2 separate regions of the Homo sapiens genome follow, and region 1 is linked to region 2. A link means that fine-mapping ties the variant in region 2 to the expression of a gene that starts in the linked region. Tissue or cell type: whole blood. Region 2 holds a variant in brackets; the other region holds the start of a gene. All regions are shown on one strand. Distances are from middle to middle.

Evidence for each region. PIP is the estimated chance that this variant, and not a neighbour inherited with it, causes the effect.
Region 1: IAH1 starts here. The variant in region 2 is fine-mapped to the expression of IAH1 in whole blood (TOPMed, PIP above 0.99).

The regions. Positions count from the first base shown.
Region 1 is chr2:9,469,576-9,477,756 of GRCh38, forward strand. It overlaps IAH1 (isoamyl acetate hydrolyzing esterase 1 (putative)), which reads left to right and starts at 4,976. Exons shown (of 6, transcript NM_001039613.3): 1 at 4,976-5,072; 2 at 6,412-6,464. The coding sequence starts at 4,992. It overlaps CPSF3 (cleavage and polyadenylation specific factor 3), which reads left to right. Exons shown (of 18, transcript NM_016207.4): 17 at 1,768-1,864; 18 at 3,341-3,526. The coding sequence ends at 3,442. RefSeq lists a silencer at 4,748-5,517 and enhancers at 4,787-5,554, 6,035-6,595.
Region 2 is chr2:9,657,771-9,665,951 of GRCh38, forward strand. The region is part of intron 3 of LOC105373418 (a long non-coding RNA gene); the gene reads left to right. LOC105373419 (a long non-coding RNA gene) reads left to right here and starts at 2,707. Exons shown (of 2, transcript XR_922779.2): 1 at 2,707-3,067; 2 at 3,236-3,513. RefSeq lists an enhancer at 1-477. The variant C/T (reference allele first, on the strand shown) is at 3,770.

The sequences.
Region 1 (8,181 bases), 190 kb before region 2:
GCCCTTCCACTGGACTTTCACTCTGGCCTTCTTCCCTGTCCTCCTGACACCACTCCTCCCGCCTCCCCTCCCTCTCCCTCACCTCCCACAAACACACCAGAACTATTCAACTCTGAGGAACAGGAGTATGAGACAGCTTCCATTCGGCCAGGAATGGGAGGTTCCCATGTCCTTAAACTTCAAAGCCAATCGTACCCTTAAAAATGCAGCTATTTCCCCAGTTGTTTAAACACTTAGGATTAGATAGGAGTAGATGTATTGGTTTCTTCAGAGAAGCCAACAGTGGATCACATGAAAATGGAACCTTTTTTCCTATCCTTTTGAATACATTTCTGTGTTTAAAATATAATTTTTTTGGCTGGGTGTGGTGACCCACACCTGTAATCCCAGCACTTTGGGAAGCCAAGGCAGGTGGATCACTTGAGGTTAGGGGTTCGAGACCAGCCTGGCCAACATGGCAAAACCCCATCCAAAATACCCCTACTAAAAATACAAAAATGAGCCAGGTGTGGTGGTGGGTGCTTGTAATCCCAACTACTCAGGAGGCTGAGGGAGGAGAATTGCTTAAACCAGGAGGCAGAGGTTGCAGTGGGCCGAGATCGGGACACTGCACTCCAGCCTGGGCAACAAGCAAGACTCCGTCTCAAAATAAATAAATAAAATAAAATATAATCTTTTCCTTTGTGCTAGGGTCCCACCTAAGTTTATTCACACATATGATGAGCAGTAACTGCCTGAAGATGCAAGGAGTTGATTCCCACTCCCCACTTCCCCCGCTTAATACAGTGTTGTCAGTGCTTAACTGTCCTAGGCTGACCATGGTCCATGGGTTGTTTAGAGTCACTGCCTGCCTTTCTTACCTGCATTCAGCCTGCTGGTGGACTGCTGTTTCCTAACACCTCTGTACCAATGGGGACGATGTTGAAATTAACCATCAAAACTGTTTCTCTCGATGACAGAGGCAATGTCTTAGTGCCTTCTTTATCCCCAGCTACTAGCACAGAAGGAATCTGCCACACAGAAGATGCTCAATAAATACCAAGTTTAATTAAAGTAGGAGTGCACAGCTAGTGGGCTTGGGAGCCATTTAAACCTAGATACCTGGATTTGAATGCCGGCTCAGCTGTTTACTAGCTGTGAGGCTTTAAGCAAATCACTTAACTTCTGTGTCTTGTTTTCTTCACATGTAAAAGGGGATCCTTACTAAAATTATAGGTTAAGATAATGTATATAAACCACCTAGCATGATGCCTGCTGAATAGATCATTCTTGAATAAAGCTGTGTATTTTCCCTGTTTTATAAACTTAATAAGCTGTATCAAGGCAAATAAGAAGCTTGTCTCAAAAGTAAATACAGGCTGGGCATGGTGACTCCTGCCTGTAATCCCAACACTTTGGGAGGCCAAGGCAGGTGGATCACTTGAGGCTAGGAGTTCAAGACCAGCCTGGCCAACATGGTGAAACCCTGACTCTACTAAAAATACAAAAATTAGCTGGCTGTGGTGGTGCACACCTGTAATCCCAGCTACTAGGGAGGCTGAGGCAGGAGAATCACTTGAATCCGGGAGGCGGAGGTTGTAGTGAGCCAAGATTGTGCCACTGCGCTCCAGCCTGGGCCACAGAGCAAGACTCCATCTCAAAAAAAAAAAGAAAAAAAGTAAATACAGTATTCTGCTTTAGAACTAGGACCTATCTTCAGTTTTATTTTTTCCTCAAATATATAAAGCCGGGCATTTTCACTAATCCTGCATTTCTGCTTATTTTCAGGGACATATTTGGAGAAGACTGTGTAAGTGTAAAGGATGACTCTATTCTTAGCGTCACAGTGGACGGGAAAACTGCCAACCTTAACTTGGAGACACGGGTATGTAGCTGCTCTTTCCTACGTTTCAAGACATTTGGGAAATAAAGTGAAGGCATAAATAATCTGTGCTCTCACACTCAACAGTCTACTGTTGCATATTGGCATTTGCTTCCAGTGTTTCCAACATTTTTTTCACATTGTTCTTTTTATATTATTATGGTTGAAGTTTTCCGTGTTTTTCCGGGTTACTGCATAGTACAAGGTTCGCGTGTATGCCACTCCATTGCTGTCCTCTTCCATAATACAGCTTAGTTCACCTCATCCCTTCTCTAGTTTGGCATCTAGTTGACTCTCCATTTTTTAAAGAAGCCGCTCTTCTGTTTGCACCAGCAAGATCCAAGTGGATTTTCCAAACAGTTCAAAACCAGCCCGGGCAACACAGTTAAACCCCATCTCTACTAAAAAATACAAAAAAAATTAGCCGGGAATGGCGGCAGCTGCCTGTAGTCCCAGCTACTCAGGAGGCTGAGGCAGGAGAATTGCTTGAAACAGGGAGGCAGAGGTTGCAGTGAGCCAAGATCACATTACTGCACTCCAGCCTGGATGATAGAGCGAGACTCTGTCTCCAAAAAAAAAAAAAAAAAGAACTAGAGGCCAGGCGTGGTGGTTCACGCCTGTAATCCCAACACTTTGGGAGGTCAAGGTGGGTGGATCATCTGAGGTCAAGAGTTTGAGACCAGCCTGGCCAACATGATGAAACCCCATCTCTACTAAAAATACAAAAATTACCCAGGCGTGGTGGTGTGCCTGTAATCCCAGCTACTTGGGAGGCTAAGGCAGGAGAACCCAGGAATCACCTTAACCCAAGAGACAGAGGTTGCAGTGAGCTGAGATCACATCACTGCACTCCAGCCTGGGCGACAGAGCGAGATTCTGTCTCAAAAAAAAAAAAAAAAAGAAGCAACTAGAAGATTATTAGTGAGTTTCAGTCAAATTCAGTACCAAATGTTGAGTAGATAGCCACATCCATTCCTTGCCAAGTAATTTGTGTGGCATAGATGAACTTCCCTGGAGTATCATTTACTAGATCAAACTGTGGGCTTTGATGTAAATGTAGTTTACTAGACTTTCCCCAGTCTTTCACCCCAGCCTCAAGTCATCACTAATTAGGACCGTGCTGCTGTCAGGAAGCACTGCACGCCCACAAGTGTGTAGGGCGGCCGTTCTGTTTCATGGTAATCAGTCCCACCATGACCTCTGCACACACAGATGATTGTTCTTTTTTTTAGTTTGAGACCCGGTCTCGCAGTGCCGCCCAGGCTGGAGTGCAGTGGTGCAGTCACAGCTCACTGCAGCCTCAACCTTCCCGGCTCAGTGATCCTCCCACCTCAGACTCTTATCTGGGACCACAGGCACACGCCACCACAGCTGGCTAATTTTTTATGAGATGATGGTTTTTTTAAAGAGTATTCATTTATCTTCTATATAATCATTATAGACTTAATTCTAACAGTCTTGTTTGTGCCTCACTTTCAGACTGTAGAATGTGAAGAGGGAAGTGAAGACGATGAATCCCTCCGAGAAATGGTGGAGCTGGCTGCACAGAGACTGTACGAGGCCCTGACGCCAGTTCACTGAGACTGTGCCTGTATATGAACTTTGAAAAAATACTTGACTCTACTTTTGTTACCTAAAATAAAATGCATTCGTTTCTCTGGGGGAGCCTGTTTACTTTTAATGTCAAATGGCCTTTATTTCAACAGCCTGAATACTGCTAAATTGCTAATTAATTTGTCCATTATTCTAGAACTAACTACTAGATCAACTGCCCATTATTTTAGAATTTTGGATTCTTCTTCCAGGCATGTATGTGCAGCTCCCATTGAAACCATCAAGATCTGCCGATAGCAACCGCTGCTGGTTACCCTCTCCTCTGGGGTAACCAATTTGAGTTAATAATAAGGATTCTAAGTTGCACTTGAATCTTTTCTGTCTTCATCTCCACTGCTGCTGTTCGAGTCCAAGTCTACTCTCCCCTCTGAATTCCTGCAACCACCTCCATCTCCTCCCCTATAGCTGATTCCTGGAACAGACCTGGCCTCAAGCCTCTGCTGCTTGAAGGCCTTAATGAAGTCCTTGTGATAAAGATGAAGTCCAGGCACCTTTGCTTGCTCTAGCAGGGGCTCTCAATCTGGGCTACCCGTGGGAATCACGTGGGGTGCATCACAAGTGCACCTGTGCCCAAGTCCTGCCACCAGGAGGTGAGTTAGTCCGGCTGGAATGAGGGCCCTAGGTTGGATCTTAGTTGTAAAGCTCCCCCAGGTGATCCAAGCGAGCTTGGGACGAGCAACCTAAAGAAAGTCATGCTCTACGCCCATCGCCCCGCCCCAGGGAGCGGGGTCGGCCTCTGCGCCGGCGCCCCTGGCCCTTCTGTTACTCATCTACAGCTCCGTGATTTCAAGGCATCCTTCCCACCCGTTCGTTTTTAGCTCGGCTGCCGAACTTCATTGCACAGTTGAGGTAAGAACGTTGCATTACAACCACGTTTTAACAGGTGAATCCCTTGGAAGTTAGTCAGTGCTCCGTGTCCGCGGGGTTCTGCATCTGCGCATCCACCCCACGGCGGGAAAAAGAAAAGCGGCCGGCTGCGCGCGCACTGAAGGTGCAGCTGCTTTCCCTTGTCATTCGCAGAACCACGAGGTACTGCCAGGGTTTCCGCAGTGCCTGCGTCCTCGTGGGTGTTACAGGCCCTCCAGAGTGACGCTGGGCGCAGGAGGCCGCGCGCGCATCCCACGACCTCTTCCAGGGGGGCCTGGAGCAGCCCTCCGCCCCACCGAGAGCCAGCTGTGCTTCCCGCCGCGCGTCCTGAGGTCACACTCCTGCCCTTTGCCGAACGCACCTGCGCCCGCGGAGCGCGGGGTGGGCTTAGAAGGGCCCCCAACCGCTTTTCTTCCGGGAACCACGCAGCGGGACGCGGGCTCCGGACTCCCTGGGGGCAGCCTTGCTGTGGGTGAGCAAGCGCGGAGGCCGAGCTTCTTGCAAACGGACTCCAAGGGGCAACGACCTTCGCGCGTCACCAAAGTGACTGCGTGGGTGCCCACGAGCCCGGCTCCCGCAACCCACGGGCGGCCACTGCGCAGGCGCCTCTCGTGGCTGGCGGCCCCGCCCCGCCCCGCCCGGCTGCTCCATGGCGCTGTGCGAGGCCGCGGGCTGCGGGAGTGCCCTGCTCTGGCCTCGCTTGTTGCTCTTCGGGGACTCCATCACCCAGGTACGGCCGCCCCGACGCTCGGCCTCCCGCCCCGGCCTCCCTGCGGGGTCGCTGCCGAGCAGGCCGAGGCTCCTCGCCGTCCTCTTCGGCGCCCGAGACGGCTGGGCCGGAGGCCTGGCCACGCCCGTGGAGACACCGGAGGAGTGGCGGGTCCCCCAGTGGCTGCGCCTTCCGGGCCCGCGGCGTCCCGGAGGTCACGACGGCGTCCGCGAGAGCCCGGGCTCCAGGCACAGACGCGAGGGGACCCGGCCGCGCTGCCCGCCCCGCGCCGCCTCCCACCCGGGTCGAGATGCGCGGTCTTCCCCTCAGCGCCCTCCTGGGCAGCGGCCTTTCCCCTCCGGGTCCGGGTTAGCGGCCGCGGGCGACCGCGCGCTGTGTCCCAGGAGGCCCCGCGGCCAGCTCCGGGCAGAGGCGCCAGGAGCTCTCTCGCCCCATTCCCTGCGGGCACAGGTGGGGCCGTTAGGGGTTGACCTTGGAAGTAAAACGCCTTCAGGAATTAGGTAGAAAAGGACCATCCGTTCATCCAAGATCATCTCACCTCCCATGAAGGGAACGGTCTTCTAAATGCAGGTTCTTACTTCGGGGAGGGAGTAGAAATTCCATTCCTGTGTGTGTCCTCTTCTCAGACAGGACTTGCTTCACCAGGCTTTTGTGTATACGCCAGTAACTGGTAACATTATGTTTAGGCATATGGGGCAGTCAGAGCTGCCGAATTCCATGGGAATGTGTATGAAAAAGTGTTCACCCTCAGCTCGGTAACCAGCAAAGCAGTGAGGCGGTGTGGCCTTCATTTCCTCACTGACCTTTGACTTTATTTCCTGAACTTAGATTTCTGTTTAGCTTTTTTTTTTTTTTCTTTTTTTCTTTTTTTGAGACGGAGTCTCGCTCTGTCGCCCAGACTGGAGTGCAGTAGCGCGATCTCGGCTCACTGCAAGCTCCGCCTCCCGGATTCAAGCGTTTCTCCTGCCTCAGCCTCCCGAGTAGCTGGGATTATAGACGTGCGCCACCACACCGGGCTAATTTTTGTAATTTTAGTAGAGACGGGGTTTCGCCATGTTGACCAGGCTGGTCTCGAACTCGAGACCTCATGTGATCCGCCCGCCTTGGCCTCCCAAAGTGCTGGGAATACAGGCTGTTTAGCTTTTGATAGAGAAAAATCCCCCTCTGCTAAAGTGCTGCCAGGTGTACTTACCTGTAATCCCCAAAATGACCTCCTGGAGTGAAGCAATCAAAGCCAAGAAGGGAGCGCCGAGAAAACAGAAGTTGCCAATCAGAACTGCCCTCGCTGAGATGCCCGGTTACAGTCATTAGTAGTAATAATGGGCTTTTCTTCCTCCAGTTTTCCTTCCAGCAGGGTGGATGGGGAGCATCGCTGGCTGACAGGCTGGTCAGGTGAGAATGGTTTCCGATACTTGAGTTCTTATGGATGGAAAATGTCTTAGGGATCCGTCTTATGGATGAAGGATAGTTCTGAACAGAACATTCCTCCTTTATTAATTTTGCTTGCCTCCCCTAATCAGTATATAGGAGAAGGAACAGAAAACATTTACTCTTCACTCAGTCTGACCAATTAGATATTTTAGGGTTGAGCACTGATGGCTGGGTAGACTCAGACAAATCAAGGAAATGGCCAAGGCCTCTTCCCTAGTCAGGGGCAGACAGATCCAAGTCCAGCTGCTATGACTGCAGAACTTGCAGTTTCACTGCTACACCACACTGGTAGGAAGCTACTTTGCCTTTTTTTGAAGTGCTGCCATGACTTAAGACTCACCTTGTCACAATTCTACCGCACTTTGTTTTGGTTTTTGGTGGTTTTTGTTTTGCGACAGGGTCTCTTGTTAGGCGCGTCCACGTGAAGAGACCACCAAACAGGCTTTGTGTGAGCAACAAGGCTGTTTATTCACTTGGGTGCAAGTGGGCTGAGTCTGAAAAGAGCAAAGGGAGATGGGTAGGGCAGTACTATAGGATTTGGGTAGGTAGTGGAAAATTACAGTTAAAGGTGGTTATCTATTGTTAGCAGGGGAAGGGGGTCACAAGGTGCTCTGTGGGGAGCTCCTGAGACTCATTGTCCAGGGGAGGAATGCCACAAGGTCGATTGATTAGTTAGGGTGGGGCAGGAACAAATCACAATGGTGGAATGTCATCAGTTAAGGCAGGAACTGGCTGTTTCACTCCTTTTGTGGTTCTTCAGTTGCTCCAGGCCACCTGGATGTATACGTGCAGGTAACAGGTTATGACGGCTTAGCTTGGGCTCAGAGGCCTGACAACTCTGTCACACAGGCTTGAGTGCAGCAGTGTGATCAGGGCTCACTGCAGCCTCCACCTCTGGGGCTGAAGGCATCATCACCTCAGCCTCCTGAGTAGCTGGGACCAACAGGCACTCGCTACCACACCCAGCCCAGCACTTCATTAAAGTATTGTGATTTCACTCTGTAAAATGGCTAGTCGCATTTTATAATCATTACACACACAAACAATCTCTTAGAAATAAGGCTGAGTTTCGGTGGTGGTTCTGCAGTTTATAAATGCCACCTGAGAACTTTGAGCAGTGTCAGAAAGTGTCCCCTTGTGCTGCTTTGGAGCCGCTGCCTGACGCTGTGGCCTGCAGTTCTCCGCGGGTGCCCCAGCTTCTCTGCTTGGTTATGCATGTATGGGAATGTGAATACAGCAAAATGAACCATATTGATTTACTAATCATAAGTTGAACCCCAGGCGTCATTTTAAGAAAACTTTATGGACAACTTTAAATATCTACAGAAGCAAAGAGTGAAATGAGCCCATCCATCCCTCCTATGGATTATTCTGAAGCAAATCCCAAATCATATCATTTTACCAAGACTAAGAAAAAAAGAGTCCCTCTTATGTGACTGGTATTCTCTGAGGGGTTTCAAACCTACTGCCTGATGCGAATCCTTAACTGGGATTCTCCTCACTTTACATGTGAGGAAGGAGCACAGCGTGCCCAGGGTCACGCCTAGTCACACAGGGAGCCGAGAAACAAATCCAGGCAACCCGGCTTTTTTTTTTTTTTCCCCCATTACACCTACAGTACTGTGAATCCAACTGTTTTTAAGAAGGAAACAAAAAGTATTAACCGGTTTAAGTTGAA
Region 2 (8,181 bases):
CAAATTGGATTTTATAAAAATGAGGGTTTAGAAGGAAGGTTTTAATACAGGCGATTAAGCTGTAGGCTCCAGAATGGGGGAAGGTGTGAAGCCCCACACCTTTTCTCTCTTCTCCAGTGCAGACTCCATCCAGCACTCACTGTCAATGTTACTGCCATGGAAGTTGGTTAATCACTGCTGCGAGGTGGCCTCCAGGGGTGGTGTGGTATTGTTTCTTAACTGCACGCAAGGCTTGAGGACTTAACTCCTCTTTGTCCCTCCACCTTCTGCTCACAGAGGGTAGAGATTGTCTCACTCATCTTTGAACACGCAAAAAAGCTACTCAGTAAACGAGCAGTGGATAGATGATGCCTCCTGGAGCCTATTATTGCTTTCCTTTTTTTTCCCAAATGTAACCTTGTTTATAGACATTTCTCATAAAAGTAGAGAAAATTGCATACTACCATATTATACCTACCACCCAGCTTCAACAATGATCATCATTTTGCTATTTTTAGTTCATCTACACTCGCACCAACATTTTTTTTTTTGCTAGAGTCTTTTAAAGCAAATCTCAGTCATCATGTAATTTCATCCATCAAGATTTCAGTATAGATTTCTAATAGGAAAGGACTTCAAAAAAACAAACTCAACTACATGCCATTCTCAGACCTAACAGAATATATTTCTTTTTCTTTTTTGAGGGGGGTGGGTGGGGGGAAATGGCGTCTTGCTCTGTCGCCTAGGCTGGAGCATCACAGCTCGCTGCAACCTCGACCTCCTGGGCTTAAGCAATCCTCCCACCTCAGTCTTCTGAGTAGCTGGGACCACAGGCACATGCCACCACGCCCAGCTAATTTTTAAATTTTTTGTAGAGACAGGGTCTCCCTACGTTGTCCAAGCTGTTCTCAAACTCCTGGGCTCCAGTGATCTTCCCATCTTGGCCTCTCAAAGTGCTGAGATTACAGGCATGAGCCACTGCGCCCAGCCAATAAGTTTCTTAATATTATCCCACATGTAGGCCACATTCCGTTTTCCTCAGTTGTCTCAAAACAGTCTTTTTACTGTTGGTTTGTTCAAATTAGGATCCTTAAAAGAGTAAGTGTGGTGTTGGATGGGTATGTTTCTTATGTCTGTTCCCCTTCTTTTTTTTGTTTTTGTTTTTTTAAATGCCATTTAATTGTGGAAGAAACCAGGCCATGAGTCCTGCAGACATTTTCCACAGTTGTTTGGATTTGGCTGATGGCATCCCCACGGTGACATTGAGCACACTCCTCCATCCCGGGGTAGCAGAGGTTTGCATGCCACACTGCCTGGGCATGCCTGGTTTCAGCATTGCTTACATTCTGGAAATTGTGGCCCCACGTTAAGCACTGCAGCTGTTATTCTGCTTCACTGACTCATGGTTTTCTCCTGAACATCGTGTGTGTTCGTCGGGAGAGGGAGGTAATGGGGGAAGGACTAACGCTCCCAGGACAACCATTAACCAATGAAATGGCTGGGCACAGCGGCTCATGCCTGTAATCCCAGACTTTAGGAGGCCGAGGTGGGAGGATCACTTGAACTCAAGAGTTCCAGACCAGCCTGGGCAACATAATAAGACCTTGCCTTTACAAAAAAAATTAAAAATTAGCTGGGCATGGTGGCATGTGCCGGTAGTCCCAGCTACTCAGGAGGCTGAGGCAGGAGGATCCTTTGAGCCCAGGAAGTTGAGGCTGCAATGAGCGGTGATTGCACCACTGCATTCCAGCCTGGGCCACAGAGTGAGACTCTGTCTCAAAACAAAACAAAGAACAAAAAAAAACAAAAAGAAAAATCCAATGGGGCTGAGCATGGTGGCTCACACCTGTAATCCCAGCACTTTGAGAGGCCAAGGTGGGTAGATCACTTGAGGCCAGGAGTTTGAGACCAGCCTGGCCAACATGGTGAAACCCTGTCTCTACTAAAAATACAAAATTTAGCCAGGCGTGGTGGCACATCCTTGTAATCCCAGCTACTTGGGAGGCTGAGGCAGGAGAATCGTTTGAACCCAGGAGGTGGAGGTTGCAATGAGCAGAGATGGTGCCACTGCACTCCAGCCTGGGCAACAGAGCGAGACTCCATCTCAAAAACACACACACACACACACACAAACAAAAAACCCAGTGGTACCTACATTCTCCAACTTCCCCATCCTCTGGTCGGATAACTCTGAGGTACATTCTGCATGGTTCTTCAGAGGATCCCCAGCAAGACTGAGCCTCTATTACCCACAATAGTAACCATCCTTTGTGGGCCTTTATTATTATTATTATTTATTACCATACATTATACTTAATCTTCATCATTCATGTATTAAAACAGGGTGCCCACCCTTTGTCAGTAACACACACTCATTGTCTTTTCTTCTGGGTTTTCACCCTCCCACACTCCTTCCTGAGACCATCTCCCAAATAAATGACCTGCTCCCAAATCCCGGTCCCAGGCTCTTCTCTCGATGGAACCCAAGCTAAGACACCTTCCTGTGTCTAATAAATCATGGTTAGCTCCAGAGCTCAGCTGGATGCAGCTTCCTCGCTTTCTCGTTTTGGCACGTTGGCGTCTCCGGCACTGCTGTGTGCTTCCCACTGTGTTGCGTGGGCCCGGCGGAGCCCGCTATTCCGTCAGTGGCAGTGGATCTGTGGGAGGGGCCTCTACTCGTCTTCTGTGATTTCAGCCTTACAATGCTAGGGGTCTGCCTCACACAGTCAGGGGCCTACCTCTCACGTTTCTTTGTCACCTGTTCGGGGCTGCTCCCTGCATTTATGTCTGAACCTTTCCAAAGCTGGTTGAATTCCCGCCTGCAGGTAGCGCGAGGGTCGTTCAGCAGCAGGAGGCGGGGGTCTGGCTGCCCTCATACCAAACTCGTTCCCTCTACCTCACCAGGGTCTCAATGTGTGAGTCATTTCAACTGAGGGTGTTAGGTTTTCAAGTCCACAGGATGGAATACTTAGTGTCACAGAAATAGAAGCTCATCAAAGGTGTGCTTTGCCGGACTGGGTGGCTGCTCACCAATTCATGGGAGGCTTAGCACATCGTAATGGAAAAGCAGAGAGGGCGTGTAAGCCGGGTGAGTGTGTGTGAGTGTGAGTGTGTGAGTGTATGCATGTGAATGTGTCTCCAAGACTTCTTTCCCCCTCAACTGGCAGAAATCACTGCTTGTTCTATATGCCTACTCCTTCTAATTTCTCCATCTGAGAAGCCTCCCCCATTCTGTATTCCCTCTCCCTACCCCCAGTTAGTTTCCTGCCATCCTGCAATGCCTGAAATCGAGCCTGTTGAAGTGGGAGGTAGCCTGATAAGTGAAGATAGCTCGGAATTTCGAATTAGAAGACTCGATGATTTACTGTGTGACCCTGGATCATTCACTGAGCCACTCTGGGCCCTATTTTTCTTATCTTTTAGTTGAACATAATACATATAGGTAAGTTATAATGCTTCGACTTGACAAATCAAAAGACAGCATGCATAATGAAAAAAGAATATTGTATGTAGTAAAGCTTTGTATGAATGAGAGAGAGTACTTTTCTGCCTCAGTGGAAATAGATTTTCAGTTCTCTCTTGGACAGACTTTGATAGGAATAGAAAATGAGGATTGAACTAGTCTGTTTCTGTTGTCTCTGCAAACAACAGAAACAGAAACAGACTCAGGCTAGTTGACATAGAAAAGAGATTTATTGACAGTATATTGGGTAGCCCTTAGACTTGCCAGAGGGCTGCAGAGACAGGCGTGGGAAATAAACAGGAGCTGAGAACTGGGCAATGACCACAG[C/T]CTTGGCCAGGGCCACAACACGAACGGACACGGCTGTGACCAATTCGGAACACAGGGCAGTGGGGCTTGCTGTTCCGCTGCTGCAGCCCTCTGGAACCATCCGTGGCTCTGTGGTTGCCGTTCCTTTCAGGCCTGCCTGGAAGGGGCTGGGACTGTGGTGGGCCTCTAGGGTTTCCCCCCAGAGACAAGGCCTCACTCTGTTGCCCAGGCTGGAGTGCAGTGGCACAAACATGGCTTACTGCAGCCTTGACCTCCTGGCCTCAAGCGATCCTCCTGCCTTGGCCTCCCGAGTAGTTAGGACTACAGGTATGCACCACTGCACTTGGATACTTTTTTATTTTTATTTTTTATAGAGACAGGGTCTCACTATGTTGCCCAGACTGGTCTTGAACTCCTGAATTTAAGTGATCCTCCTGCCTCGGCCTCCCAAAGTGCTGGGATTGCCAAGTGTGAGCCAGTGTGCCTACCTGGGATTTCCACTTCTGTGTAGGAAATGGGCTGAGGGAGGAGAGACCTTATTAATAGGTGGAGGCAGCTGTGGGATGAGGCGGGAAACCTTGGAGGCTGACAAAGGCCAAGATGAATACTGATGCTGTCATGCTATTGATTATTGATCTTGGACATGATGTCCTGACAGGTCTGTTGAGGTTCCATTATGACAGAGCACCGTGGTGGCCACAGTGGTAGGTGGGACAGAGCCTCTGCTTTGAACTTAGAAAACACATGGTGTAAATCATGATATGACATATGAGGAAATAGATTGTAGCCATTATTCATCTTTTTTTTTTTTTTTTGAGACAGATTCTCGCTCTGTTGCCCAGGCTGGAGTGCAGTGGTGCGATCTCGGCTCACTGCAACCTCCACCACCCGGGTTCAAGTGATTCTCCTGTCTCAGCCTCCTGAGTGGCTGGGATTACAGGCGCGTGCCATCATGCCTGGCTATTTTTTGTATTTTTAGTAGAGATGGGGTTTCACCAGGTTGGCCAGGCTGGTCTCAAACTCCTGACCTCAAGTGATCTGCCCACCTTGGCCTCCCAAAGTGCTGGGATTACAGATGTGAGCCACCGTGCCCAGCCCCATTATTAATCATTTTTATGAAAATGTGGGAAAATGCTTTTGACATATCATTAATGAAAACAAAAGGGGAATACCATACTGTCTATACACTTGATTACAAGGTTGTAAAGCAAGTGTGGATGTGGAAGGTAATGTGCAAAACAGGAAAAGGCTGTTTTGAGTTAGAATATTGGGATTATGGGTGATTTTGATTTTTAAACTTTTTTTTTCCTTTAAGGTTGCTATCACGTACCCTTCACATTGAAAATAAATGCAGTAAGCTTTTCAATGTACATATAAGAAGGCAACATAACAACTGTTTTGATTGATGTTAACAATACTGAAAACTTCAGTAGTATCCCCTTACTATACGAAGAATTGGTTATCAGGTTCCAATGACGGAGGAGCAAATGCAAGACAGTCAGGAGAAGGTGCTGGCAGTGTGGTCACCCACCTCTCTTTCCTTTCAGAAAAGCTGGTTGCTGAGACTCCAGCAAGCAGCCTGTCTCTCATCAGTTCAATCCACTGCAATGTTTCTTTGCAACTAAAAATGACTCTCCTACCGCTGGCTCTCTCAGTTCTCAGAACATGAGTTTCTGACCACATTTGTGTGACTTGTCCTCAGTCTCAGAGGAGAAAGTAATAGAGACGGTCTTGCCTACTCCTCTGTCTACTGGACCCTTGATTCTAAGCTCTTCCTGTCTTGTATCCTATTAGCCAACAAACTCAGCTTCCACTAGGATATACACAAGAGCTGCACACTGCATGATGATACGGGTTGTGAAGTGTTGATCCATCCCCAGTTTATGGGCTTGTTTCTTTGAGAGCTGAGGCATGAGATGGGGAGAGATAGGGACGTTACCCCTCAAGATGGAGAGCTGCTTATTGCAGAGTGCTAATTAGTGCTGGACGTTTGCCACCTGTAACCCTGCTTCATCTCAGAGGGAGAGACAGATGTTCTTATTAACAGCGGCTTTAGCAGAAACGAGACATGCACAGGTTCACCACATTCTGTAAGATTATTGGGTTTTCTAGGTACAATTTGAGGGCATAGCCAAATGTTGGCCCAGTTTTCTGACCCCATAGCTTCCTGTCTCTTCTACCTAGTTCATACTTTGGTAGAGCAAAATGTAACTCACTGCCACTCTGATGTGCAGGGGAAAGTGAGTGCAATTTAAAAATTTTCCATCTTTAACATGGTCTGTTCTCCTGAGGTCCACCCACCCCCACCCACTGATTAGTGGAAAAAATTAATTCTATATTCCATCTTGTTTAAACATGGTTCCATCTGTTCACTGAATTGGCCTCTTTAGGAAACTGTCTTGCATTTGGATACAGATACTCAGTCTCTAAGACTGCCTGTCCTTCACCTCTTCTGGCTTCAAGATGGTGTCTGGTGGTATCAGAGAAGGGTTTACATTTGCTTACAGCAACAGCAAACACTTGTAGTCCTCGATGATGGTGTCCACTCCCACTCTGTTCCCTGGGTGATGAGTTTGACCCACCTGAATTCCTCTTGCCCCACTGACATCTGAGGCTGGAGTGCCTTGTGACCTGGTCTTCCCTTACGTGATTAGGGAAGCCCCTGAGTGTCTGCCCTGTCCTGCCCCTGCCCTCTTGCCCAGCTGCCCTCCCCAGCTTCTGCCATGAGACACCTCATCCTGCCATGGCAGGCAGACTGGATATGATCATGTGATCATCTGTCCTTGACGTCAACCTTGAACTTATTTAATGCTCCCTTTCCCTGTCCCAGTGCAAGCCTTGACAGGGATACGGGGGGTCCCACACCTGCCTGCTTTGTCTCCTCACTCTCTTTTTTCTCTCTCCTCCATCTACCAAGCCAGAAAAAATGTGGGCTTTTCATTTACTTCTCCTACATCATATCTTCCTTCATTCTGCTTCCAGCTAAGCTTTAATGATGAAGTGGGATCTCTCCTATGCACTGCAGGGGAACTCTGTGGGCTGAGTCCTCCAAGCCCACATGCTGACACGCCGAAGGAAGAAAGAAACTTGGGGGATCCTTTCTTTAGGTAACAGTCTGGCTTGCAAAATGTGTTTTTGCTGCTTAATGCTATTTTTGAATATAGCAACACAATATTACCTTTTTACCCTTCTCTTGGAGTTCCATTTATGACAAATTCTGATCCCCCTCCACAGACAGATAGATGCTAGGGTGAACTAGGGCAAGAGTTTTTGTATTTGTGGAAACTCTATTTATAATTCTATTCTGGGAATCTTTTACTTGGCATTTGATCTGCCTAAAACCAGACTCTTCTTCCACTGCCAGCTTAGTTTTCCTAAAATCATACTTTGATCGTGTCACTCCCGCCCAAAAGCCTTCCATGGCTCCCCGTTGCCATTGCATGAGCTCCTTTGGCTCTAACCTCCCCAGATTCTCCTTCATAGCTTTCTCCTTAGCAGGCCTGTCCCCTCTTTCTTCTTGCCTTCTTCCAAGTCTTTGCTCACCTAAATATACCACCTCCCTCTTCTTTCTGCCTATTCAAATTCCAGCATCCTCCAAAACCTGTACCAATCCCACCCGTTCCATGAAGTTCTTTGGATGAGCTGAGTAAAGGCTCTCCCTTCTGCTGTTCCACAGCACTTATTGGACACGTAGCCCAGCCTGCTTTGTTGAGTTGGCACAATGGAGGTCCTGCCTTGGAGGTGGCCCATTGGTGACTGGGAGACATGTCTGGAGACATGTCCAGAGACCAAGAGTCAAGCTAGTTAGGCAGTGCATGATAGATAAAATCCACTTCAAAGGCAAAATGTCTTCCAGAAAAGGAGCAGGAGGAGAAGGACTTACTGACTTAATTAACGAATCAGTACTCCTAATAGATTAAATAAGAAAATGTGGGCCAGGCGCAGTGGTTCACGCCTGTAATCCCAGCACTTTGGGAGGCCGAGGCAGGTGGATCACAAGGTCAGGAGTTCGAGACCAGCCTGGCCAATATGGTGAAATCTCATCTCTACTAAAAAATACAAATATTAGCTGGGCGTGGTGGCACATACCTGTAGTCCCAGCTACTTGGGAGGCTGAGGCAGGAGAATTGCTTGAACCTGGGAGGCGGAGGTTGCAGTGAGCCGAGATCACACCACTGCACTCCAGCCTGGGCGATAGAGTGAGACGTCATGTCAAAAAAAAAAGAAAGAAAGAAAGGAAAAAGAAAATGTGCCAGTGGAAGTGAAGGGTTAACCCGGACTGCAGAGCCATGTCCAGGCAGCATGTCCCTGGCCCTGACCAGGTGATATGACCCCATGGTCCCCAGGGTAACCTGTCCCTGCAGGGGGAAGTGAGTGGCTGTGGCAGTCGTTGTGGATGACACCAGCTCAGTCTCTGGCTCCTGCCTTTCACT